6 separate regions of the Homo sapiens genome follow, and regions 2, 3, 4, 5 and 6 are each reported to be linked to region 1. Evidence: microRNA targets listed by miRTarBase, many of them from high-throughput screens and not tested one by one. Region 1 holds a microRNA gene; each other region holds the end of a gene's coding sequence.

Region 1 (4,089 bases):
GGCTGCGAGCCTTCTGCGGCTCTTTGGTTTCAAGGACACAGCGAGCTGCTCAGGACTTTGGGAGCCAACATCTGTCTGACTGGTGACGTCAGCAGCCCGTGTAATCCTCTTGTGCTGAAGGCAGATGCCTTATTTGTTTGGCTGGAGCGAGCCATTAATCCCTAATTCTGGATCAGCAAGCGAGGGGGAAAGACCGGACCGCTCCGACCCACCCCCTCCCTACCCCCACCTCCCACCTTAAAGCACCTTATACCACGGAAGGCTCTCAGCCTCTTCTTTCCTCTGCGAACGCGCTGAGCAGCGATTGAAAACGTTTTGGTCCTCTGCAGGTTTGAACAGGGCTAGCAGGTCTCTCTCCGGATTTCTAGGGCTATGGGTATATGTAATTCTTTCTCTCATCGATCGTTTCGATTCTCTTGCCGGTCTTGCAGTTTGCAGGGTCCTAAACGAAGAGGGGTGGAGATTCGAGAGTGCGGGTCTGGCGTGTGGTCCAAGGGAGGGGGTGAGGCTGGGAAAGGGGGTGCAGAATGCGGGAACGGCTGGGACTGCACAGAAGGACCATCTGCGGACTCGTTTTCACTGCTCCAGCTCCCGAAATCGTTTCTCTGGACGCGGCAGTATCCGCAGCGCATGCACCCTCCTCTGGACTTCCGCAGCCCAGACCTGCGCTTACAGTCATCGCGCCACCCCCTCCCCCCGGGCTGCGGGCCCCGCGCTCCGTGGGCTCAGGGTCCCCTCCGCGTCCCCCTGAAGCCTGGGGACGGAGGTCGCGACCGGCCGACTGGGGTCCTGTCCTCTTGTCACCTTGTATCCCTCGCATGCTCCCTCCCGCCTCGTGTCCCTCTCCCCACCCTCCCCCTCCTCTCTCCCGCCTCCCTAACACTGCGCTTTGATTCTGTTTTTCAGGGGCGCATTCTGGGGTCTCTGCGCAAGACCAGCTCTCAGCTCTCTCTCCTTTCCTCGGACTCTGGAGCGGGAGCGGGCCTTTCCCTCGGGTCGACCACGCCGTAGGGGACGCCGTGAAAAGAGCCGTCGCGCCCGCTGCCTCCTGCCCGCTGCGCAGAGGGCTCCGCCCGTAGAGGTCAACTTCCCTCACCCTTTTCTCTCTCCTGCTTGCCCTCCCTCCGCCCGGCCCAGGCGCTTCCAGCCCCAGACTGTGGCCACTGGCTGAGGAGTGCGAGTCGGCTGCGCTGCCCTGAGCCTAATCCCTCTTCCGGGCCCAGACCCGAGGTCCGCGCTCCTGGGCAGTGGGGAAGCTTTAGTGAGCAGGCTTTTCTCTCCGCAGCAAACTTGTAGCCAGACCAGATGGGCCGCCCAGCTCTCTCGGGACTAGGCAGGTGCGGATGAGTTAATTTTTCCGCATTACAAAGAAAGATGACCCAGCCCGCCCTTGGACTCTCTTTTCCCAAAATCTCCCAACCAAACCCGCGGTAACGTTATCAAAGGACACAGAGCCCAGGCATATCTGTGTGTTTATCTTACAGGCACACACGCATGGTTTTCTCTTTTATATGCTAGATTTCATCCCTGACAGCAGAAAATGATTGGCAATGGTTATGACGGAGAACATGCAATAGCGTGGTCCTTAAAAACCTGCCATTCCTTACAAGTGCCTTAGAAAGGATTCAGGGCGAACCAACTGGGTTAATTGCATTCAGTAAAATAACACGATTACAAAATTAGATCTGTACCAGAGGGGTAATTAACTTGGATCCACGCCGTCATTTGAAAACTAGATTTATAGGCTTATGTATGTTTTTAGGCGTGTGCTGTAAATGGCATGGAGATATATGCATATGTATACGCAGGCACACGCACCGTCTACACTTCCACGGAACAGACTAATTAACAGCGGCTCTGGCAGATGTGTCAGAGATGAGCAGAGACAGGAGCTGGGCTTATGAGTTATGACTCTAGGGGTAGAGACTCAGAGCGGAGAGAGGGGGATGGGCAGGGAGAGAAGAGTGGTAATCGCAGTGGGTCTTATACTTTCCGGATCAAGATTAGAGGCTCTGCTCTCCGTGTTCACAGCGGACCTTGATTTAATGTCATACAATTAAGGCACGCGGTGAATGCCAAGAGCGGAGCCTACGGCTGCACTTGAAGGACACCAAAGCATCTCAGGGTCAGAAAGGGGAAAAAGCAATTGCAGGGAATTTAGGGGGTAGTAAAAGGAACCCATCTCTTGCCGCATAAATGCCCCCCACCCCCACCCAGGACTGATTCTGGAAGCAACCTAGTGTTCGAAAGGGAAAGGCTCCTACTTTTCCATTACAGCCGCGGAAATCCGCAGGCAAATCTCCGAGGAGAATTTTAGGGAAGCTTCATTGACAGCTGTCTGGAGAGCAGTAGTTCCCGCCTGTGCAAATATTCCAGAGAGTTAAATCATTTAGAAAGCACTAGTTCTTTCAAGAACAGGTAGTGTGATTGTCTGCAGTCCTGGGCCAAGCTGGGAAAACAAAACAGCAGAGAGAGGTGTAACATTAAATAGCGTCCTGACCACACTGCGCAAGAAACAGCAAATGAAACGTCCAAACTTTGGAAAGATCTGAAGAACACTTGCCGCCCGCATTTCCCCTTGACTTCTCCCTTTTTCTTCCCAATCTCGAGGCGTTCATGCCTGGCTTTAAGACGCCAAGATAACTCTCTTGTTTTGGCATTGTCGCAATGTCCAAATCGGTCAAAGGAGTGGGATAAGGTGAAAGGACCAGGTCAGAAACTTTAGAAGGACTCGGTAAATTAATTTGTTTGGAAGCCAGTGAGGTGGACTATGTTGAGGTAGCAGTTCCGCACCACGACTTTGGAGCCAAAGAAAAACCCAGGCCGAAAAAGCGAGCCTTGATGTCTTTGTTCTGCCTTGGCCTGCAGGGGTTGGGAACAAAGGAGAGGAGCTAAGAGGATGCACCAAAGTAGCCGCGCCCTCCCTGCCTGGCGCTGTCCGCGGTGCTGACCGTGGCCCTTTTCTCTCTCCGTAATCAAACTGGAAAAGCAATAGGACCGTCCCGTCCCTACTCAAAAGAAGAGTAGGATATTAGGTAATTTGAAAAATAACATTTAAAAAGAGAAAAAGGTCACATACAGCAAAACAATATTTTACTGAAATCGTTCCCTCAAGCTGGTTGCTACCCTTGCCTGACACTTTTTGGTCTTCACGTAGGAATGCACACATACATACATTGTAAGTGTATGGGGAAACCATTTCCACTTTATTTAGGCTGAAACCTAAATCGCAGGATTGCAAGAAGGAAATTGAGGAGAATGAAGGCTTTATTATTATCCTTTTCTTTCTTAAATCATCTTCCTTAAAACAGAAACATAAGGTCCTCAGCCGCGGATTTTAGTGCTTACTTGGTCACCAAAGGGACGTGCAATGGACTCAAGTGTGGGCCTCGAGGCTTAACTAGGAAGGGGTGGGTCGGGGACCCACCAGGTGAAACAGGGCAGGAGCCCATGCAGCTTGCCACCTTCGGCCAGGCCTTGCAGCCCGGCAGCCTTAGTAGACGGGTACAGAGGGCTGAGCTCTGCAGACCGCTCTGCTGCGCAGGAGCCTGCTCGGCGCATCCCAGCCGGCGGGAGGCACTGGAGGGCCAGGAGGCCTGAAACCCGCACTGCGGAAAAACCGACCTCAGCCACATCCTCATAGCTCACGCGACGGAAAGAGGCAGGGCGGTTTACTAAATCTTATGCAGTGAAAATTCGCCTTAGAAATCGAAGGTTGGATGAGTCAGTATTGATATATTCAAAAATCTAAATTTCTTAGCATATTTCATCGTTCTTAGATGTTGAAAGTATTAAATGTAAACAATACAAATTTAAATTCCCTAAGTAATGAATCAAAATGGCAAGGGAGAGAGAGAGAGAGAGAGACGGAAAATCAACCAATTCGTAGCCACCCTGGCTGGCTATTTCTCAAAAGAAATTTCTATGCATTTGCTTGAGTTTGTCTATAAATTCACAAACATAAAGGGTGTTAAAATTAGTAACAGACAAAATAATTCAGGTTGGACAATAGAGACAGCAACACCGATTTTGATCCAGGTATAACAATGGGCCATGCATTGACAATGACCTAAAAGACATGTGTTCATT
Region 2 (4,089 bases), not on the chromosome of region 1:
ATGGAGTCTTGCTCTGTTGCCCAGGCTGGAGTGCAGTGACACGATCCTGGCTCTCTGCAACCTCTGCCTCCTGGGTTCAAGTGATTCTCCTGCCACAGCCTCCTGAGTAGCTGGGATTGCAGACCCACGCCCGGCTGGTTTTTGTATTTTTAGTAGAGACAGGGTTTCGCCATGTTGGCCAGGCTGGTCTCAAACTCCTGACCTCAGGTGATCCATCCGCCTCGGACTCCCAAAGTGCTGAGATTACAGGCGTGAGCCACCACACCTGGCCAGGTCGTTTTATTTTAAATGAAGGATGTCTTTTAATGTGGCAATATGAAATTAACCATGCATGATATAATCAGCTTGCTTTTCTTTGACAGAAAAAGTGGATAATTATTGCTGTGTCAGTGGTTCTGGTTGCCATAATCGCTCTAATTATTGGCTTGTCAGTTGGCAAATGATGGTGTGGATAACGTCAGTGTGCATGCCTCTCTGCCAGGGTGGGAGTAAGTAACTCATCAACTAATTTACTTATTAACTTTTGCAATTAACCAATAATAGTATTTGCTTAATTGTAATAGACATAAAACTAATAAAAGCTTGCCAGCCACGCAGTACAGATAATGCCATCTAGTGATACATCTGCCTGTGTGCTGATTCGAGTGCCCAGCCACTGTGTTTACTGAGAACAAGCACAGGCTGGGCGGTAACTCATTTTTAAACCAAGGTCACCTTCTTATCCCGTTTTTAAAAGTGTTTTTGAGACAGGGTCTAGCTGTGTCACCCAGGCTGGAATGCAGTGGCGTGATCATGGCTCACTGCAGCCTCGACCTCCTGGGCTAAAACTGTCCTCCTACCTCAGCCTCCCGAGTAGCTGGGACTACAGACGTGCACCAGCACACTCGGCTAATTTTTAAAAAAATTATTTTTAGTAGAGACGAGAACTCTCTGTATTGCCCAGGCTGGTCTCGAATTCCTGGCCCTCAGCCTCCCAAAGTGCTGGGATTATACATAGACATGAGCCACTGTACTCAGCCTGAATCTTTTGTTTTTGATCTAAGACCATTAGCTCTTTACATGTAGTGGATCCTTCATTAAATGTCATAGAAATTCAGTGAAGATTAATTCTCAGTTGTAATGTTTTGTCTCCTGAGTTTTAGCTTTTAGAGTAATTGCAACACTGAAAGGTACTTTATAAAATACACTAACGCATCATTTTACTATGGAATCGAGGGCATGGATGAACGCTGAGAAAAACATTGACTGAAAGGAACATCCTTCGACCTTTCTATAGGCAGCATCTATTTTATTTAAAAATATTTCCTTTAATATTAAAAGGAAAATTACGTATTATATTTAGTTAGCATGCCTGTTAATTCTTAAAGAATTCTGAATATAAAAGGTATCAGTTTATTTAAAGAATCAAGGTGTGAGTGTCACCTTTCCTAAACTTCAGCAGGCTTTGTGGTTTCCCCCTGGTTTTCTTCTGCATTGGGAGCCATCCTTGCACTGGCCCTGAAGTGGCAATGCTGTCGGTGTGTTACAGGTGGACACAGCAGTGATTTCTCTGTAAATGTTTGGCACAATTCTTGTATTAGACAGTTGTGAACTGTTCCCAGGTGTCTAGAGTGTGGCAAGTCATCCCCAATGAATTTATTCTTGGGTTATGGAAGTGACTGCAGACTTGATAGTCACCCAAGGCTTTTTAAAAAGTTAACATACAGCAGAAAGGAATCACGAGCATGGTTAAGTCTCACTATTGCTTTGTAATCTTTAAGATTTATTCCTTCAACATGGCAACACCCTGTCTCTACAGAAAAAAAAAAATCCAAAAACTAATTGGGCATGGTGGCACACGTGCCTATAGTCCCAGCTACGCCAGAGGCCGAGGCAGGAGGATCACCTGAGCCTGGGGAGGTCGAGGCTAGAGTGAGTCTAGATCGCACCACGGCACTCCAGCCTGGGTGACAGAGCGAGACCATCTCAAAACAAGAGATTGATATCTTAATGTGAGCATCTGTTACGCTCACCATGCAGTTACCAGATGAGAAGTTTTCCAGTTAGTCTTCTGACATTTATGCAAAAGCCACAAAATTACACCTGAAATTACTCTGTAAGGAGCTCTGGGATGCTGCGTGTGTTAACATTCCATTATTTGGCAGTCAGAACTCTCTTACCGTCTATTTTTATTAGGCAGGATGTTTGTGTAGGATGTTTATTAGGCAAGATGTTCTATTTTTTTCTTCTTAGCTTTGCTGAAAATATTGTACGTGATTTTTCTTCATTGTTATAGTAGTATTTTTCAATATTTTCATGATTCTAACATGTACTTTCTGAGTTTTTTCCTAGTAGCTATAATATGGTTAGTTTAATGTGGTTACACTAAAGATAAAATTACAATTTGTAGCGCGGACACAGTGAAATGCGCGACTTTTCATGGGCACTACTTGGCATTAAGGTTGACTAAAAGAAGGCTCCTCTCAGTGTGACCCCTGGGGAGTGGGGCTTGAAGTCCTGTGCCCCGGGCCTGGCTGGCCATTTCACCCTAGTGTCTGTAAATAAGAATGAACATAGAAGGATCCTCATTCATAAAAAGCAGACCAAAATGAATACCAGCAGTTATCTTTGCATAGGAAGGCAGTGGTTAATGTCCTTAACTTCACTTTTAAAATATTAACATAGCCTTTCATCCTTTAGCAATTGGCCTTCCTGGGGCTGGCTGCTGCCCCTCCCTGCAGGGTGTGCCAGGTGCAGGCCTGTCACCCCGGAGCATGGGTGGGATGGGCTGCTTTAAGGAGACAGGTGGAGTCTTACAGGTATTCGGTGAGAGGGCCCTGGCCCAGACCTGGAGCTGGACTCCCCAGGGTGTACCCTTTCCACTCTCGCTGTCACCAGGAGATTAGATGACTCCTGAGTCCTGTACCCTAGACTCCATGTAGTTGACAGTCATCCTGAAAGCCAGATGTGGCAGGAAAGTGCACACACATCGAGCACCCAGACACGTGGCAGGCAGCACAACAGCAGCAGGAGATGAGAGCACGCTGCGTGGAGCTGACTCCAGGTGGCCCAGCTGCCAGCACACTCACTTGCTGAGCGGGAGGGCGCGCGCCTCCCTCTGGAGGGAGGGAAGGCATCACAGAGAAAAGGAAGAAGAGGTTTCTCTAGGAAGGTGCTGAGAGTGGGGCGTAGGAGCGCATATAGAGGATGAGAGAGTGGCTGGGGCTTTGCAGGAAATGTGCGTGATGTTAACAGGGAACCAGAGTTTGAGGGAGGGGCCCTCCTGCAGGCAGCTCTCCCCGGTCCTGAGGAGTCACTGGGAGGCTCACCGGGGCCTGCCATGCGCCTCTTGATAACCCTGTATAACTGACTGAGCCGGCAGTCTTGGAACTGTCCAGGCTCAGCAAACAGGATTTCTTAGGTAAAAGCACTCGTACATTTGGAACTGTAATTAAAATGATGGATCTCTGCTGTTCAAAAAGAGAACTCAAAGTCCTACAGCGCGGTGCCTCCTGTTGTGTCTTCCTTTCCTTCCCTCAGACAAGCTTCCTGGAGGAGACTCCATTTATTAAGCCAAAGGTGGTCTCGCTTTGCCTTGTGTGAGGATACTTGTTAATTTTAAAAAAGTTAAATGCTGTGTCGCACCCTGCTTCCAGACCATCAGTGCAGTAGAAGAATGAATGAATGTCTTGTTGATTTCTTACACATTTGTCATATTTAAATGTAAAAAATGGATAAGGCCAGGTGCAGTGGCTCATGCCTGTAATCCCAACACTTCGGAAGGCCAAGGCAGGAAGATCGCTTGAGCCCAAGAATTCGAGACTAGTCTGGGCAACATAGCAAGACCCCATCTCTTAAAAACATATTTTTTAATTAGCTGGGCATGGTGGTGCATGCCTGTCATCCTAGCTCCTTGGGACACTGAGGTGGGAGGATTGCTTGAGTCCAGGAGGATGTGTTTGCAGTGAGCCATGTCTGCACCACTGCTCTCCAGCCTGGGCGACAGAGTGACACCTCCTTTCAGAAAAGAAAGAAAAAATAGGATTTTTCAGCCAACAAGAAATTCGTTTAAAGTTTTACAAATATGTGTAATTCATCCAATTAAAAGCA
Region 3 (4,089 bases), not on the chromosome of region 1:
TTTAAAAATTTCATCTACAGCTTGTTACATCTGTAATGGAAAAAAAGCAAACTGTTTCTAGTCTCTAATACATATAACTTGTAAGTGGGTTTCAAAGCTATTTATAATTTTGAAGTGATTGAGTACATACACTTTGGAATCAGACTCAGGATTTGAATCTGGTTTTGCCATTCACTTGTATAACTGGACAAATCAGTTTCTTTGGATGAGCCTTAATCATCTTGAAGTGGGGATAATTCTAATAACCTCATGGAATTACCACTGGATTAAATGAAATTTGTAAAGCCATACATAGCTCACTGTCTGGCGCACAGTAAGTGCTTAGGAAGTAAGGTTTTAAAACTGCCACTTAATGTGATTTATATTTATCTCTTTCAGGTGAATGAACTTCAGAATTTGTCAAGTGCAGAAGTTGTTGTCCCTCGTGACCAGACACCTGATGAGAATGACCAAGTGGTTGTCAAAATAACTGGTCACTTCTATGCTTGCCAGGCAAGTGGGCTCTAAAATAAGCTATTGTATCTTTCTCACGTGGAAGCAATTCTCCCACAGGTGCTCCTACCTGATAGAATTAGTTAAGGTTGTTTGATGCTTAAGACTTTTCATCTCCCTTTTAGCGGGTGATTTCAGAGACTACTAGCAAACTGACTAGTATGTATCTTTAATCATCAAATGGATTTCTATTTGAAATTGTTGAAATGAAGGAGTACAATAACTTTTAGTAGCTTTTGATCAAGTGGAATTTCAAAGCTCTGTCCTTTTCTAGGTTGCCCAGAGAAAAATTCAGGAAATTCTGACTCAGGTAAAGCAGCACCAACAACAGAAGGCTCTGCAAAGTGGACCACCTCAGTCAAGACGGAAGTAAAGGCTCAGGAAACAGCCCACCACAGAGGCAGATGCCAAACCAAAGACAGATTGCTTAACCAACAGATGGGCGCTGACCCCCTATCCAGAATCACATGCACAAGTTTTTACCTAGCCAGTTGTTTCTGAGGACCAGGCAACTTTTGAACTCCTGTCTCTGTGAGAATGTATACTTTATGCTCTCTGAAATGTATGACACCCAGCTTTAAAACAAACAAACAAACAAACAAAAAAAGGGTGGGGGAGGGAGGGAAAGAGAAGAGCTCTGCACTTCCCTTTGTTGTAGTCTCACAGTATAACAGATATTCTAATTCTTCTTAATATTCCCCCATAATGCCAGAAATTGGCTTAATGATGCTTTCACTAAATTCATCAAATAGATTGCTCCTAAATCCAATTGTTAAAATTGGATCAGAATAATTATCACAGGAACTTAAATGTTAAGCCATTAGCATAGAAAAACTGTTCTCAGTTTTATTTTTACCTAACACTAACATGAGTAACCTAAGGGAAGTGCTGAATGGTGTTGGCAGGGGTATTAAACGTGCATTTTTACTCAACTACCTCAGGTATTCAGTAATACAATGAAAAGCAAAATTGTTCCTTTTTTTTGAAAATTTTATATACTTTATAATGATAGAAGTCCAACCGTTTTTTAAAAAATAAATTTAAAATTTAACAGCAATCAGCTAACAGGCAAATTAAGATTTTTACTTCTGGCTGGTGACAGTAAAGCTGGAAAATTAATTTCAGGGTTTTTTGAGGCTTTTGACACAGTTATTAGTTAAATCAAATGTTCAAAAATACGGAGCAGTGCCTAGTATCTGGAGAGCAGCACTACCATTTATTCTTTCATTTATAGTTGGGAAAGTTTTTGACGGTACTAACAAAGTGGTCGCAGGAGATTTTGGAACGGCTGGTTTAAATGGCTTCAGGAGACTTCAGTTTTTTGTTTAGCTACATGATTGAATGCATAATAAATGCTTTGTGCTTCTGACTATCAATACCTAAAGAAAGTGCATCAGTGAAGAGATGCAAGACTTTCAACTGACTGGCAAAAAGCAAGCTTTAGCTTGTCTTATAGGATGCTTAGTTTGCCACTACACTTCAGACCAATGGGACAGTCATAGATGGTGTGACAGTGTTTAAACGCAACAAAAGGCTACATTTCCATGGGGCCAGCACTGTCATGAGCCTCACTAAGCTATTTTGAAGATTTTTAAGCACTGATAAATTAAAAAAAAAAAATTAGACTCCACCTTAAGTAGTAAAGTATAACAGGATTTCTGTATACTGTGCAATCAGTTCTTTGAAAAAAAAGTCAAAAGATAGAGAATACAAGAAAAGTTTTTGGGATATAATTTGAATGACTGTGAAAACATATGACCTTTGATAACGAACTCATTTGCTCACTCCTTGACAGCAAAGCCCAGTACGTACAATTGTGTTGGGTGTGGGTGGTCTCCAAGGCCACGCTGCTCTCTGAATTGATTTTTTGAGTTTTGTTTGTAAGATGATCACAGTCATGTTACACTGATCTAAAGGACATATATATAACCCTTTAAAAAAAAAATCACTGCCTCATTCTTATTTCAAGATGAATTTCTATACAGACTAGATGTTTTTCTGAAGATCAATTAGACATTTTGAAAATGATTTAAAGTGTTTTCCTTAATGTTCTCTGAAAACAAGTTTCTTTTGTAGTTTTAACCAAAAAAGTGCCCTTTTTGTCACTGGATTCTCCTAGCATTCATGATTTTTTTTTCATACAATGAATTAAAATTGCTAAAATCATGGACTGGCTTTCTGGTTGGATTTCAGGTAAGATGTGTTTAAGGCCAGAGCTTTTCTCAGTATTTGATTTTTTTCCCCAATATTTGATTTTTTAAAAATATACACATAGGTGCTGCATTTATATCTGCTGGTTTAAATTCTGTCATATTTCACTTCTAGCCTTTTAGTATGGCAAATCATATTTTACTTTTACTTAAGCATTTGTAATTTGGAGTATCTGGTACTAGCTAAGAAATAATTCTATAATTGAGTTTTGTACTCACCATATATGGATCATTCCTCATGTATAATGTGCCCCAAATGCAGCTTCATTTTCCAGATACCTTGACGCAGAATAAATTTTTTCATCATTTAGGTGCAGCTTGTTGTGTAGTATGTTTTATTTTTGGTTTTCAATTGAATGGGAATGTTCTGAATTTTTTTTCAAACTCTACGCAGATTTCTGTTATACCATGTCCAGCCATGGTACTTAATGTGAACCTTGATAATACTCTTGCATATGAACTAAGAACTAGAGCGTTCAGAGTTTTTCCTAACAAACACTTTGTTTACTTTCTTGTGTTACTGGAGTATTCTGGAAGGGTTACAGAAGTCCTCCTAGAAGAATATTATCACCTCAAAGTATAAAAATAAGACCAGTGGGCTATGTTTTATATTATTTTTTAAAATTTTTGCCATTCCATTAAACAAACAGGGTTAAGATTTACATTTAAGCTAAATTAAATTAATAAAAATCTGAGCAGAGAAGTCAAGCACAGGAGCCAGTGCTAACTCCAGGAAATTCTGATGACATTTCCAGGATAAAGGCAGCGTGTCATAAGTTTTGGGTAGAATGTACTGATTTTTGGTTGCAGGTATAGCTCACTTATCGACAGTCTCTGCATGCCAGTTAGCAGGAGTGCCCATGAGGTACACAAGCCTTGTCCTAAGAGCAGCCTAACCAAGGAGACGGACTTTAGGAGCTGTATTTTCCAATAAGTGACTCAATCCAAATCTGAAATGACTAACGCAGTGCATAAAATATTTTATTCACATTTTAACTCCACTGGAGTCACAGATGAAGTATCATCTTCTATTCCAAGAATGAAGTCTTCAGGTACTGTCTCAGGTGCTATCTGAGCTAACTGGTCATCATAAGAACGTAGGGTCCATAATTTCTCTAATTCATAGATTTCTCTGGTTTCTGGAAGCATCAAATGAATCACCATGCTGCCTGTCAGGGACAGATAAGAGATACAATGAAGGAATAGTTCATTTGCTTTTATTCTTACCTTACAACACACACTGGCTAACTCTAGGAATAAAGCAGTGGTTCTCAAGTGTGGTTCCCAGATTAGCATCACTGTGGACTCCATCCCAGCAAAAATACCACAGAAGTGATGCTATGCCTTTCTCAGTGTACCTACAGGAGGCATATGTCAATATATAACA
Region 4 (4,085 bases), not on the chromosome of region 1:
TGCCGAGACATTAATGGACAGCCTGCTTCCGAGTGTGCAAAGGAAGTGAAGCCAGCCAGCACCAGACCTTGTGCAGACCATCCCTGCCCCCAGTGGCAGCTGGGGGAGTGGTCATCATGTTCTAAGACCTGTGGGAAGGGTTACAAAAAAAGAAGCTTGAAGTGTCTGTCCCATGATGGAGGGGTGTTATCTCATGAGAGCTGTGATCCTTTAAAGAAACCTAAACATTTCATAGACTTTTGCACAATGGCAGAATGCAGTTAAGTGGTTTAAGTGGTGTTAGCTTTGAGGGCAAGGCAAAGTGAGGAAGGGCTGGTGCAGGGAAAGCAAGAAGGCTGGAGGGATCCAGCGTATCTTGCCAGTAACCAGTGAGGTGTATCAGTAAGGTGGGATTATGGGGGTAGATAGAAAAGGAGTTGAATCATCAGAGTAAACTGCCAGTTGCAAATTTGATAGGATAGTTAGTGAGGATTATTAACCTCTGAGCAGTGATATAGCATAATAAAGCCCCGGGCATTATTATTATTATTTCTTTTGTTACATCTATTACAAGTTTAGAAAAAACAAAGCAATTGTCAAAAAAAGTTAGAACTATTACAACCCCTGTTTCCTGGTACTTATCAAATACTTAGTATCATGGGGGTTGGGAAATGAAAAGTAGGAGAAAAGTGAGATTTTACTAAGACCTGTTTTACTTTACCTCACTAACAATGGGGGGAGAAAGGAGTACAAATAGGATCTTTGACCAGCACTGTTTATGGCTGCTATGGTTTCAGAGAATGTTTATACATTATTTCTACCGAGAATTAAAACTTCAGATTGTTCAACATGAGAGAAAGGCTCAGCAACGTGAAATAACGCAAATGGCTTCCTCTTTCCTTTTTTGGACCATCTCAGTCTTTATTTGTGTAATTCATTTTGAGGAAAAAACAACTCCATGTATTTATTCAAGTGCATTAAAGTCTACAATGGAAAAAAAGCAGTGAAGCATTAGATGCTGGTAAAAGCTAGAGGAGACACAATGAGCTTAGTACCTCCAACTTCCTTTCTTTCCTACCATGTAACCCTGCTTTGGGAATATGGATGTAAAGAAGTAACTTGTGTCTCATGAAAATCAGTACAATCACACAAGGAGGATGAAACGCCGGAACAAAAATGAGGTGTGTAGAACAGGGTCCCACAGGTTTGGGGACATTGAGATCACTTGTCTTGTGGTGGGGAGGCTGCTGAGGGGTAGCAGGTCCATCTCCAGCAGCTGGTCCAACAGTCGTATCCTGGTGAATGTCTGTTCAGCTCTTCTGTGAGAATATGATTTTTTCCATATGTATATAGTAAAATATGTTACTATAAATTACATGTACTTTATAAGTATTGGTTTGGGTGTTCCTTCCAAGAAGGACTATAGTTAGTAATAAATGCCTATAATAACATATTTATTTTTATACATTTATTTCTAATGAAAAAAACTTTTAAATTATATCGCTTTTGTGGAAGTGCATATAAAATAGAGTATTTATACAATATATGTTACTAGAAATAAAAGAACACTTTTGGAATGTGTGTGTCTGTTTTTTGAAGTGGGAATTCATTCCTAGGAAGGAAACCTGAGGCACAAATATTGAATCTGAAGACCGAATTATTTTCTTAAATTATTTGGCAATAAGATTTTGTTCTAGAGGAAGGTGAAGCAAGACGGCTGAATAGAAGATTTTTTTCTAATGAGATGTATTTCTTATATCCTTGGTATACATGATTGCTAAAAAGAAAGAAATTTATGATGTCATTTGTTACTAATGTATCTAATAATATACATCAGTGGTTGGCAAACTTCTTTTGTAAAAAGCCAAATGGTAAATATTTGCAACTTTGTCAATCCTGTCAATAACTATCCTGTCAATACCATCTATGTCACAACTGCTCAACTGTGCTGTTGTAGCACAAAACTAGCCATAAAGAATGAGTAAGTGAATGGACATGGCTGTGTTCTAAAAAAACTACTTGCAAAAACAAATAATGGGTCAGATTTGTTCTGCAGATTCAGTTTGCCAACCCTGGTATATACCATAAATTAAATGGAAAGAGCTTTCAGTTCTGGATGCTTTTTGAATTTGTATCTCTTCCTCAATTATATCCCATAAGTAAAAATACGTGAAAGTATTTAGCTATTGAGTAGAAAACAATGACTCATAAATTACATGTAGTAACGTTAGACATACATGGTGAGTTAAACCCTCTAAATGCTTCACTTGCTCATCAGGAATACCTGAGGGGTTTTGGAGAAAACTTGGAAAGCCCAGGCCTTTCTGCATAGTCTTTTTGTAAATCACTGTCTTTTAAATACTAAGTGGCATATCAATAACTAAAAGTTCAGATTCCTTCCAAAGTAACTACACTTCTCCCAGGAAATAGTATTTACTAGAAGACTCAGATTATGTGGTTAACCACAGACATTTTGAACTCTACGTTTTTCTTCTTTTCCTTGAAAGGAGGAGTTTGTGCCCTCTTCTGTTGCAGTTTGATAAAGACACACCCAAGACTGGGAAAAAAAAGAGGTTTAGTGGACTCACAGTTCCACATGGCTAGGGAGGCCTCACAGTCATGGCGGAAGGCAAGATGGAGCAAGTCATGTCTTGCGTGGATGCGGCTGGCAAAGAGAGAGAGCCTGTGCAGGGGAACTCCTCTTTATAAAGCCATCAGATCTGATGAGACTTATCCACTATCACAACAACAGCACAGAAAAGACCCGCCCCCATGATGCATTTACCTCCCACTGCATCCCACAACACACAGGAATTATGGGAACTACAATTCAAGATGAGATTTGGTGGGGACACAGCCAAACCATATCACAGGTATTACAATATAGCATGCTAGTTTTTATGTATAGGTGATAATTTCTAACTTACTCTCAGTTATTCAAAGTGTTCTTCCCCTGAGCAATTGAACATATCATTCTCAGCAGTCAGGTGTACAGGTGCAGAGAATCAAATTAATTTCTGGTTATTTTTTTTTCCTACCTACTAGACTAAAGGACTGAAAGTTAAAGTCATCTTCTCACATTGTGGGAACTAGTCTTGCTCCTCCAGAACTCATTTAAACGCAGAATTTAATCATTCAATTCAGTGGCCTAACTTGCCACTTGCAACAACAACCTCTCACAATAAATTATTTGTCTACATTAGTGCAGTACAAATCCCCACAGTAAGTGACATGGAGGATATACATGAGAAATGCCCTGACCCTCATTAACTATACATGCCATTTGAGAAAATGAGATATATAAATCTAAAATGATAGCTCATAAGATTAAAAAGTCACTTTTAGATCTTGCCTCATTCACCAGAATTCTTTTCTTTTTAATAGCTTAGATTGATTTGATGTAAGTAATGACACTAAACTTCAGGACACTAAGAGATCAAATCAGCCAAAAAATTTCCTATCATCCTCTCAGATCAAGGCAATGTCAGACAACTTTCTGGTGTTGCCACATTGTTTTTCAGCCCTCTGCTGGTGAAATTTTTTTTTCATCAGTAGGCTGAGTAGTTTAAGATACTCTGCTGGCAGAGATTAGCTCAAAACACACATCCTGGTTTTAGAAGATTGATTAACCGCTTGCTTGAAAGAAGGAGAGATTTTGTGCTCTCTCCTGTTACAGGTATAAATGATGAGCTGTGCCTCTGCTGAAAGAAACTTTCCACAGTGGAAAGATCAGGGACTCAAGGCCTGCAGTCTGGTTTCCTTTGTCCCATACGATGCTCCTTTAATGTGATGCACTCCCACACCCCTAAGAGTAGCGGTCCCTGAGGGCCAGACTACCGTGAATACTGCTGCTCCTCTGGGTCTCATCCCCAGTGAGGTTTCCATACTCCATGCTGGTGCTGGTGAATGTTTGCAAGGGATCCAGTGATGTGATCTGTCTGGTCCCCCAGCAGTGGATATCAGTACCAGCTCAGTTGTGGGTGGGAAGGGAGTGACGTAGACCCTGTGAGATTTCCGTGGTTATAAATAGCCTTAGTGTGTTGGCCTTCTCAAATACGGCTGTGGTGGTCATGTACTGGGCACATGGACAGACTCAAGATCTACTG
Region 5 (4,089 bases), not on the chromosome of region 1:
GATAATCTGAAATGAAATGCCCTGTAGGTCCACTGATTTGCATTACACAATAAATCTGCCAAATCTACAAGGGGAAGATCAGTTTTGGGAATACAGTGGATTACTGTAGCAGGCAGCTGCCAGAACCTGGAACTGATAAAGATCCACTGAAGAAAAGATATGTGCACAGGAATGCATGACCATATACACTAATATACTTGAGAGAAATAAATGTTAATAAGTTATACTAAGTTTGGCTGTCTGGCCTACACGATGTCAGGGCTTTTTAGTATTTCTTACAAAAACTCAAAGCTTTCTTCCATGAACTTTTTGGCAGCAAATCACTGCTGAAGGCTTACAACCAAATCCCCACTGGGGCACTCAGGAACACTCAAATGGAAGAGGGCAAAGGATATGAGGCTGCAGTTGAGGCCTTCCAGATATCATGAGCAGCATGCACACAAGTTGGAGCTGTTGTTTGCTACCAGTGAATACTAGGACTAAAAAATAAAGGCATTGTTTCGTTTATCCTTGACACCATTCTTTTCCATTTTGTCTCTGAAAATTCCCTTTACGTGCAATTTTATTCCTGGCAATGCAAATTTGATTTCTAACTCATGGCACTGTTGAACTCCCATCTTCACCCCCAGAGTTCTTTGAAAAACACTACCTGTTCCTTTCCTCCCTTCTGAACATTATCACTTTAAAACAGCAGGACTCAAACTTGCATTGAACTATATTCTTTGTGGGGTTTTTAAAACCTTCATTACACAATAAAGAGCTATTGTGAAAAAAAATCAGAAAACATAAATAAGCCAATAGAAATTCATCATTCAGAGACACTGGTGTACATATCATGCAGATATATTTGTTTTTATAAAAATGGCACCACTATGAATCTTCCGTGTGAAAATGTCATCAACATTATTCCATGTCAATATGTTCTCTAACAAAACCATTTAATGACTACTTAATATTTCACTTTAGGTATGTAATATGATGTACTTAACAAATCCCCTATTATTGTAAATTAGAGTGGCTTTCTATTATACTTTAGGCTATTATAAAATCTGGCAGTGAAGACGCTTTCTTAAAATATATTTACATGTATATTTGTCTGATGGTTTCTTTAGGACAAGTTATTAGAAATGGAATTGCTAAGCCAAAAGGCATTTAGCCCACCACCATCCCCCTTTTAGGTCTTTTTATTCATATTGCCAATTCATCCTCCAAAAGGGTTATTCTAATTTACTCTTTTTATATATCATTCAAAAAAATATTTATTTTGTGCCTACTTTTGCTAGGCACTATCAATATAATCATCGATAACAAAACGGACGCAGTCCCTGCCCTCAAGGAGCTTCCAATTTAAGGAAGAGAGAGACACCCACACCCACATTATCAGAGATTCTTCATTATTTTAAGTTGAGGTAAGCTAAAAAGGAAAACTGCAAGATCACAGCAACTTAGAAGAACCCAATACACCCTGAAGGATCTGGAAGAGCTTCCATGAGGAAGAATGGTTCTGGGCTGGGGGCTAAGGTTTTCTGGTATAAATCAGGTAAAAACAGGTTCTAGAGAGCCTTGGAGAAAACATTCTAAGCAAAGGGAACAGTGTGGACAAAGCCGCTGGGAGGGAAAGGAACACAACCCATTTGAAAACATGTAAGCAGCTCACTGTGGCTGGGGCACAGAGGCGGTGGAGAGACAAGGCAAGAGGCCAGGCCACATGGGCCTTCCAGCAGAAGTAGTGTGGACTTCCTGCACTCTCCCCCACTTGTGAGGTATTCAACACCCATGTGCTGAAACAGTCATATGGCGTCAGAGCCTAAAGAACTAACAACTCAATAATGACACATGTATTAGTCAGTTCTCACACTGCCATAAAGATACTACCTGAGACTGGGTAATTTGTAAATTACAGGGGTTTAACTGACTCACACTTCCATATGGCTGGGAGGCCTCAGGAAACTTAAAATCATGGAAGAAGGCAAAGGCGAAGCAAGGCACATCTTACATGGTGGTAGGAGAGAGAGAGAGAGTGTGAAGGGGAAGTGCCACACTTTTAAACCATGAGATCTCATGAGAATTCCCTCACTATCACAAGAACAGCATAGGAGAAACTGCCCCCATGATCCAGTCACCTCCCACCAGGTCCCTCCCTCAAACACATAGGGATTACAATTCGAGATGAGATTTGGGTAGGGACACAGAGACAAGTCATATCAACACAATAAACTGTAAGTCAGAAAAACAGATGTAAATAAAGCTGCCAAGCTACCTTGCATAAGGAACGTACTTTCAATCTGTTCCCAAACATTTACACTTACAATATCATGCCATGTGCTTTAAACAATATAATCAGCTAAATACATTGGTTTAATATCTTGTCTAAAATATCTGCATTCTTTGACTTTAACAAATAATATGTTAAGGCTGAAAAATATTAAAAAGTATTTAAAGTTTGTCAGAGAAGCTTCATACTCATATTTTACTTAATATAAAAAAAACCACATATGTTACTTAAAGTTCTACTCTGGAGAAAAAGCTACCCCCATAATCTTTCAGTGACTGTAATTGGGCAAGTTCTCTTTATTCTGACTTGGGTTTTCTTCTAGATAATCTTCTGCATGAATAAAAGTTAAAATCAGTGTTTTTGTATTTTTTAAAATCAAAAGAAGACATCAAGTACTCCGTGTGCAGTGTTTTAATTTATCCATGTACATAGGCAATTATCATAATTTGAAGGACACTTTTTACTTATTAGACTATAAGAAAAACTGTACAGAAAGTTTATACTATAAAATTACATCCCTAAGTGATTAGGGTCCTCAGTAACACAGAAATAAGAAATTGAAAAGGGTCATTGCTCGGCAATCCACATAACTACAGAGTAGAGCGCAAGCTATTGTTCGTGATCAGAAAGAGACTTCATAAAAACATCTTCACATATTCCCTAGCATTATGCCCTACTAGTAAAAGGAAGGCCTATGACAATGCCATTGTTTATTTTGTGTAACGCAGCCCTTCTATTTCCCTCAAAAGTTTTTTTTTCCTGCTATAAGATAAAGAAAAGGCTGTATCCCTAAGATATATACCTAATGAAGATTATCTCAACAGAAGCTCCAACGTTTTCCATTTTTCACTGTCTTTCCTGAAGTTCACCTGGATGTTCCACAGCAATTTTCTAACCCTTTCATTGTTGATTAGCCTACTAAAAGTAGAATTCTTTAGCAACACACAATACAAAAGACACAGGCTAAAACAGGCCTCACAAATACACTTTGAAATAGGTATATTTGGATATAAATATAACTTTCCAGTCCATTATTTTTTCTAATGACTAAACTCTAAATTTTTAAAAATGGAAGTTTTCAAACCAACGATGTGTTAAGCCCATTCTCATGACACATTCATTTTAACTTCTCATCTGCAAAACATAACGCAATAAATTACCAAAGAGGAAGAAAAAAACATGAAGCTCACCTGCCTTATAAAATGAAAACCAAGCATTACAAGACATGTAATAGCAAATACTAAGCTACACATTTTTTTTCTGAGCAATTTTTTAACTCTTCTTGATCCTAAAAGTCACAAAAGATCAATGTAGAAAATTTGAAAAATATTCTGAGTTTTTAATTAATATTCTGAGGTTTCAATTAATATGAGGTTATTTCTAGTAGTATATTTTCTATTATACATAAGTAATTGGGTTTAAAACAAGCATGTGACAGCATACTTTTTCTTGAATAAAATTAGGATATTATATTTGCATTTTTATCTTTTGTTTACTTAGCATACGGCATGTTAAGCATCTATGACATTAAAAATCCTTCTAAAACATGGTTTTAACAACATATCACATGGATGTGTCATGATATATTTAACCATTTTCCCTACTCTAAGACATTTATGTTGTTTCCAAACTTTTAACATAATATGACTATCATAAAGATATTCAAAACTCATACTTCTGATTATTTTAAGATGTATTTGTTAAAAGTGAATTTAATATGACCAAAACCACCCCCATCTCAAAAAAACAGACTGTTCTACCAGATTTTAACCTAGTCAAAAGTCACAACAATTACAATCACATGGTATATATAT
Region 6 (4,089 bases), not on the chromosome of region 1:
TTGACCTCATCTACTTCTACCATGTTGGCAAGGTCTACTGCGGGCGTCACCATGCCGAATGCCTGCGTCCACGCTGCCAAGCCTGTGACGAGGTTTGGGCCTCCCTGCCCAGGGGTGGGAGTTGAGGGTGGGCAGGGCCAGGAGCAGGCTCATCTGACAGCCACAGATGGCCTGCGCCCTCCAGATCATCTTCTCCCCTGAGTGCACGGAGGCTGAGGGCCGCCACTGGCACATGGATCACTTCTGCTGCTTTGAGTGTGAAGCTTCACTAGGAGGGCAGCGCTATGTCATGCGTCAGAGCCGCCCCCACTGCTGCGCCTGCTACGAGGCCCGCCACGCGGAGTACTGTGATGGCTGTGGGGAGCACATCGGTGGGTGAATGCTGTGGGACTGGACAGAGGGATGGATGGACAGCTGGGCCACAGTCCTACCCCACCAGGACTCCTCCTGTCCTCCAGGCCCCATCCTCCATTGTGCCCTGTACTTTGTCCAGCCCCAACACTATAGACCTGTACGCTTGGTTGCAAGTCCCACTCCCAATGTCCCCACTATGCCATGCTTTCTAAACCCCACCTAACACAATGCTAGGCCACCACCACATGTCTACACCCACCTCCAGAGGGTGCTCTAATTCCAGCCCCAGGGCTCGCCCTACTCCTAGCCTCTACCACCCCAAGCTGTGCCCCGTTCTCCTCCACTCTCCTGTATCAGCCTAAGTCAGGCCTAGCTTCTAGCTACACCCTATCCTCTGAGAACCACTCCTTTCTCAACAGGGCCACTCCCCACCTGCTAAGCCCTGCCCCCACCAGCCAGGCCTCCTCTTCAGGCCCAGCTTTCCATTCTCCTTCCACTTGGAGCCACCCCCTAATGTCTAAGCCTGGCCCGAATCTTAGAGTCCAATGCCCACCCCGCTCTGGGAGAGAGCACCCTGGGAAAGAAAGGGAGGAGTGAGAGAGAGGTTCACCAGCCAGTCTCCAGGAGAGAACCAAAACCTGTTTCCTGCTTTCTCCAAAAGGGCCCCATTCTGGAGGAGGGAGGAAGGCACCCAGGGGTGCCCTGCCTCGGATTCCCCACCTCTTCTTGAGAAGGGACTCGTTCACGAGGGGTGGGGTTACGCCTGGGGGTTCTGCCTCAGTTTTTCCCCCTCGTCGTTCCCCACAGGCCTGGACCAAGGCCAGATGGCTTACGAGGGCCAGCACTGGCATGCCTCAGACCGCTGCTTCTGCTGTAGTCGCTGTGGGCGGGCCCTGCTGGGCCGCCCATTCCTGCCACGCCGAGGCCTAATCTTCTGCTCTCGAGCCTGCAGCCTTGGGTCCGAGCCCACAGCTCCAGGGCCGAGCCGCCGCAGCTGGAGTGCCGGCCCTGTCACAGCCCCACTTGCAGCCTCCACAGCCTCTTTCTCTGCTGTGAAGGGGGCATCAGAGACCACCACCAAAGGCACCAGCACAGAGTTAGCGCCAGGTGAGCTAACCCTCTAGCCACACCCAGCCACAGCCCAGTCACCCCTATGTCCTTGCCCCTGCCTCAGCCCTGGCCCTTCCTTCTTGACTAGCCCAGGCCCTTCACCTGCTGTATCCCTGGGCCCCGCCCATTTCTCAGCTCATCCTCCTTCCCCACACCAGTCCAGGCCTGGTTTCCATCCCAAACTACACCCGCCTCATGAACCCTGGTTCCACCCTGTCAATACAGGGCTGGTCCCCTACCTCAACTTGTCTCTGCTTGACCCCAAGTTCCTCTTCCTCTTCTCCAGCCGGTCACCCTTCATCCTCTGCAGTCAGGCCCCACCCCTTTTATTGCAAACCAAATCTACTCCAGCCTATGCCACACCTCTTCCATCCGAAGCCACCCCGGGTGCCCTGGCCACGCCCCCCACACCAGTCCCATCTTGCTCCGTGTTCTTCCTTCCAACCCTCTCAACACCCAGAGCCTGCTCCAGGCCTCACACTTCCCAGACTTCCCACCTCCCTGCCATTCTCCGACCCCTGCCCCCACTTTCCCAGTCTTAGTGGAGGAAAGAAGGCCCTTCCGCAGGCCTCCTCTTAGGAGGGGGCCAGTGGGAGGGCAGATACAAGGAGTCACTCTGTCTCCCCCTTAACAGCTACAGGCCCTGAGGAGCCCTCCCGCTTTCTGAGAGGGGCTCCCCACCGCCACTCCATGCCGGAACTGGGGCTCCGCAGTGTCCCCGAGCCGCCCCCAGAGTCCCCCGGCCAGCCTAACCTGCGCCCAGATGATAGTGCCTTCGGTCGTCAGAGCACCCCACGCGTCAGCTTCCGCGACCCTCTGGTGTCTGAAGGAGGCCCGCGCCGGACCCTGAGTGCACCCCCGGCCCAGCGCCGCAGGCCACGCAGTCCCCCACCCAGGGCCCCCAGCCGTCGCCGCCACCATCATCATAATCACCATCACCATCACAACCGCCACCCAAGCAGACGTCGCCACTATCAATGTGACGCGGGATCAGGGTCAGACTCGGAATCTTGCTCCAGCTCGCCCTCCAGTTCCAGTTCCGAATCATCAGAGGATGATGGCTTCTTCCTAGGAGAGCGCATCCCTCTGCCCCCGCATTTGTGCAGGCCCATGCCTGCTCAGGACACTGCAATGGAGACCTTCAACTCCCCATCTTTATCGCTCCCCAGGGACTCTCGCGCAGGGATGCCTCGTCAGGCCCGAGACAAGAACTGCATCGTGGCTTGAAGGCAGGCCGTCCTGGAGGGGGCTCCATTCTCCAGTCAGAGTAGATGATGAGGCCCATGCCCCTCACCCCCACGCCCCGCCCCTACAACCTAAGTCATAAATCCTCTTCCTCCCTCCTTTATCAGTTTGTTTCTATTTTTGTTTCTGTTTTAGAGACTTGGTCTACCCTATTGCCCAGGCTGGAGTGCAGTGGTGTGATCAGGGCTCACTGCAGCCTCAAAAGTTTTGGGCTCAAGCTATCCTCCCACCTCAGCCTCCCAAGTAGCTGGGACTCCAGGCTCGTGTCAGCGTTCCCAGCTAATTTTTTAATTTTTTGGTAGAGATGGGGTTTTGCCATGTTGCCCAGGCTGGTCTAGAACTCCTGGGCTCAAGCAATCCTCCCGCAGCCTCCCAAAGGACTGGGATTACAGGCATGAGCCACCGCACCGGGCCTCTCGTTTGTATTATTGAAGTAATTTAATATTTGTTGTAAAACAGGCCTGGCTTCTTTGCCTCCTTGCCCCAGCTGTTTCCACTCCATTTCCCCCTCCTGATGCTTGAAATTTACCCACATTTGATGAAAGGATTACTTTATTCATTATCGTATATTTTAACAATGTTTATTATTCATTTATCCCTCTATAGAACCACCACCCACACCGAGGAGATTATTTGGAGTGGGTCCCAACCTAGGGCCTGGACTCTGAAATCTAACTCCCCACTTCCCTCATTTTGTGACTTAGGTGGGGGCATGGTTCAGTCAGAACTGGTGTCTCCTATTGGATCGTGCAGAAGGAGGACCTAGGCACACACATATGGTGGCCACACCCAGGAGGGTTGATTGGCAGGCTGGAAGACAAAAGTCTCCCAATAAAGGCACTTTTACCTCAAAGAGGGGGTGGGAGTTGGTCTGCTGGGAATGTTGTTGTTGGGGTGGGGAGGAGTTATTTCAATGGAGGAGTTATTTGCAGATTGCAGAGAGAAATGAGGGAAGTTCGCCTACACCGGGCCATCTGCGGGGTCTGCAGGTGAGGAAAAGAGAGAAAGCATTGGCTGAATCTATATGCCCATTTTTTAAAACAAGATCCAAAGTCCATGAACATTTTACACACAAGAATACCGAAGCTTATGGTACCTATTGGTACAAAAGCCCTAAGTACCAATACGAGACCAGAGTTGGCATTCGTGCCTTTAAGAGATCCCTTTCCTTTTTCCCTCTGCCCTCTCAGCAACCCCCTTACCCCCAACCAACACACACACACACTTACCAGTGGGGGCTGCTGTATGTCTTGGCTGCCGAACGGGGAAGGTGACATAGGCATCATAGCCAAAGAGGCACGTAGCGATTAGGCCCAGTACCTGGGGGACAGGATAGGAGTGAGGGGGTTTAGATTAGCTGGTCAGGTTACTCAGTCTCTT

Evidence for each region. Region 1 holds the annotated microRNA hsa-miR-124-3p (UAAGGCACGCGGUGAAUGCCAA, at 2,058-2,079, shown strand). A microRNA usually pairs through its seed, bases 2 to 8, with sites in the 3' UTR of a target mRNA and lowers its output. Matches are read on the target gene's strand: a 7mer-m8 pairs with bases 2 to 8, a 7mer-A1 pairs with bases 2 to 7 and ends in A, and an 8mer does both.
Region 2: the mRNA of STX2 is a reported target of hsa-miR-124-3p. The part of its 3' UTR that is shown has no 7-base or 8-base seed match.
Region 3: miRTarBase lists MALSU1 as a target of hsa-miR-124-3p. The part of its 3' UTR that is shown has no 7-base or 8-base seed match.
Region 4: miRTarBase lists ADAMTS1 as a target of hsa-miR-124-3p. The part of its 3' UTR that is shown has no 7-base or 8-base seed match.
Region 5: miRTarBase lists MFSD1 as a target of hsa-miR-124-3p. The part of its 3' UTR that is shown has no 7-base or 8-base seed match.
Region 6: miRTarBase lists PLP2 as a target of hsa-miR-124-3p. Seed matches in the 3' UTR shown: 7mer-m8 at 3,544-3,550.

What each region holds. Positions count from the first base shown.
Region 1 is chr8:64,377,153-64,381,241 of GRCh38, forward strand. It overlaps MIR124-2 (microRNA 124-2), which reads left to right and starts at 1,997; the gene lies at 1,997-2,105. It overlaps MIR124-2HG (MIR124-2 host gene), which reads left to right. Exons shown (of 3, transcript NR_109792.1): 2 at 907-1,337.
Region 2 is chr12:130,792,394-130,796,482 of GRCh38, reverse strand. It overlaps STX2 (syntaxin 2), which reads left to right. Exons shown (of 11, transcript NM_194356.4): 10 at 363-488. The coding sequence ends at 443. Among named protein-coding and RNA genes, the nearest start is that of STX2, 45 kb to the left of the region's middle. RefSeq lists an enhancer at 2,965-3,259.
Region 3 is chr7:23,309,138-23,313,226 of GRCh38, reverse strand. It overlaps MALSU1 (mitochondrial assembly of ribosomal large subunit 1), which reads right to left. Exons shown (of 4, transcript NM_138446.2): 4 at 1,498-3,871. The coding sequence ends at 3,684. IGF2BP3 (insulin like growth factor 2 mRNA binding protein 3) reads left to right here. Exons shown (of 15, transcript NM_006547.3): 14 at 379-492; 15 at 767-3,018. The coding sequence ends at 865. Among named protein-coding and RNA genes, the nearest start is that of MALSU1, 12 kb to the right of the region's middle.
Region 4 is chr21:26,833,758-26,837,842 of GRCh38, reverse strand. It overlaps ADAMTS1 (ADAM metallopeptidase with thrombospondin type 1 motif 1), which reads left to right. Exons shown (of 9, transcript NM_006988.5): 9 at 1-2,088. The coding sequence ends at 264. Among named protein-coding and RNA genes, the nearest start is that of ADAMTS1, 9.6 kb to the left of the region's middle.
Region 5 is chr3:158,828,299-158,832,387 of GRCh38, reverse strand. MFSD1 (major facilitator superfamily domain containing 1) reads right to left here. Exons shown (of 16, transcript NM_022736.4): 16 at 2,672-3,409. The coding sequence ends at 3,406. Among named protein-coding and RNA genes, the nearest start is that of MFSD1, 28 kb to the right of the region's middle.
Region 6 is chrX:49,174,275-49,178,363 of GRCh38, reverse strand. It overlaps PLP2 (proteolipid protein 2), which reads right to left. Exons shown (of 5, transcript NM_002668.3): 4 at 3,939-4,029; 5 at 3,129-3,692. The coding sequence ends at 3,670. PRICKLE3 (prickle planar cell polarity protein 3) reads left to right here. Exons shown (of 9, transcript NM_006150.5): 6 at 1-92; 7 at 185-371; 8 at 1,162-1,461; 9 at 2,099-3,562. The coding sequence ends at 2,691. Among named protein-coding and RNA genes, the nearest start is that of PLP2, 4.4 kb to the right of the region's middle. RefSeq lists enhancers at 550-844, 1,363-1,864 and a cis regulatory region at 448-948.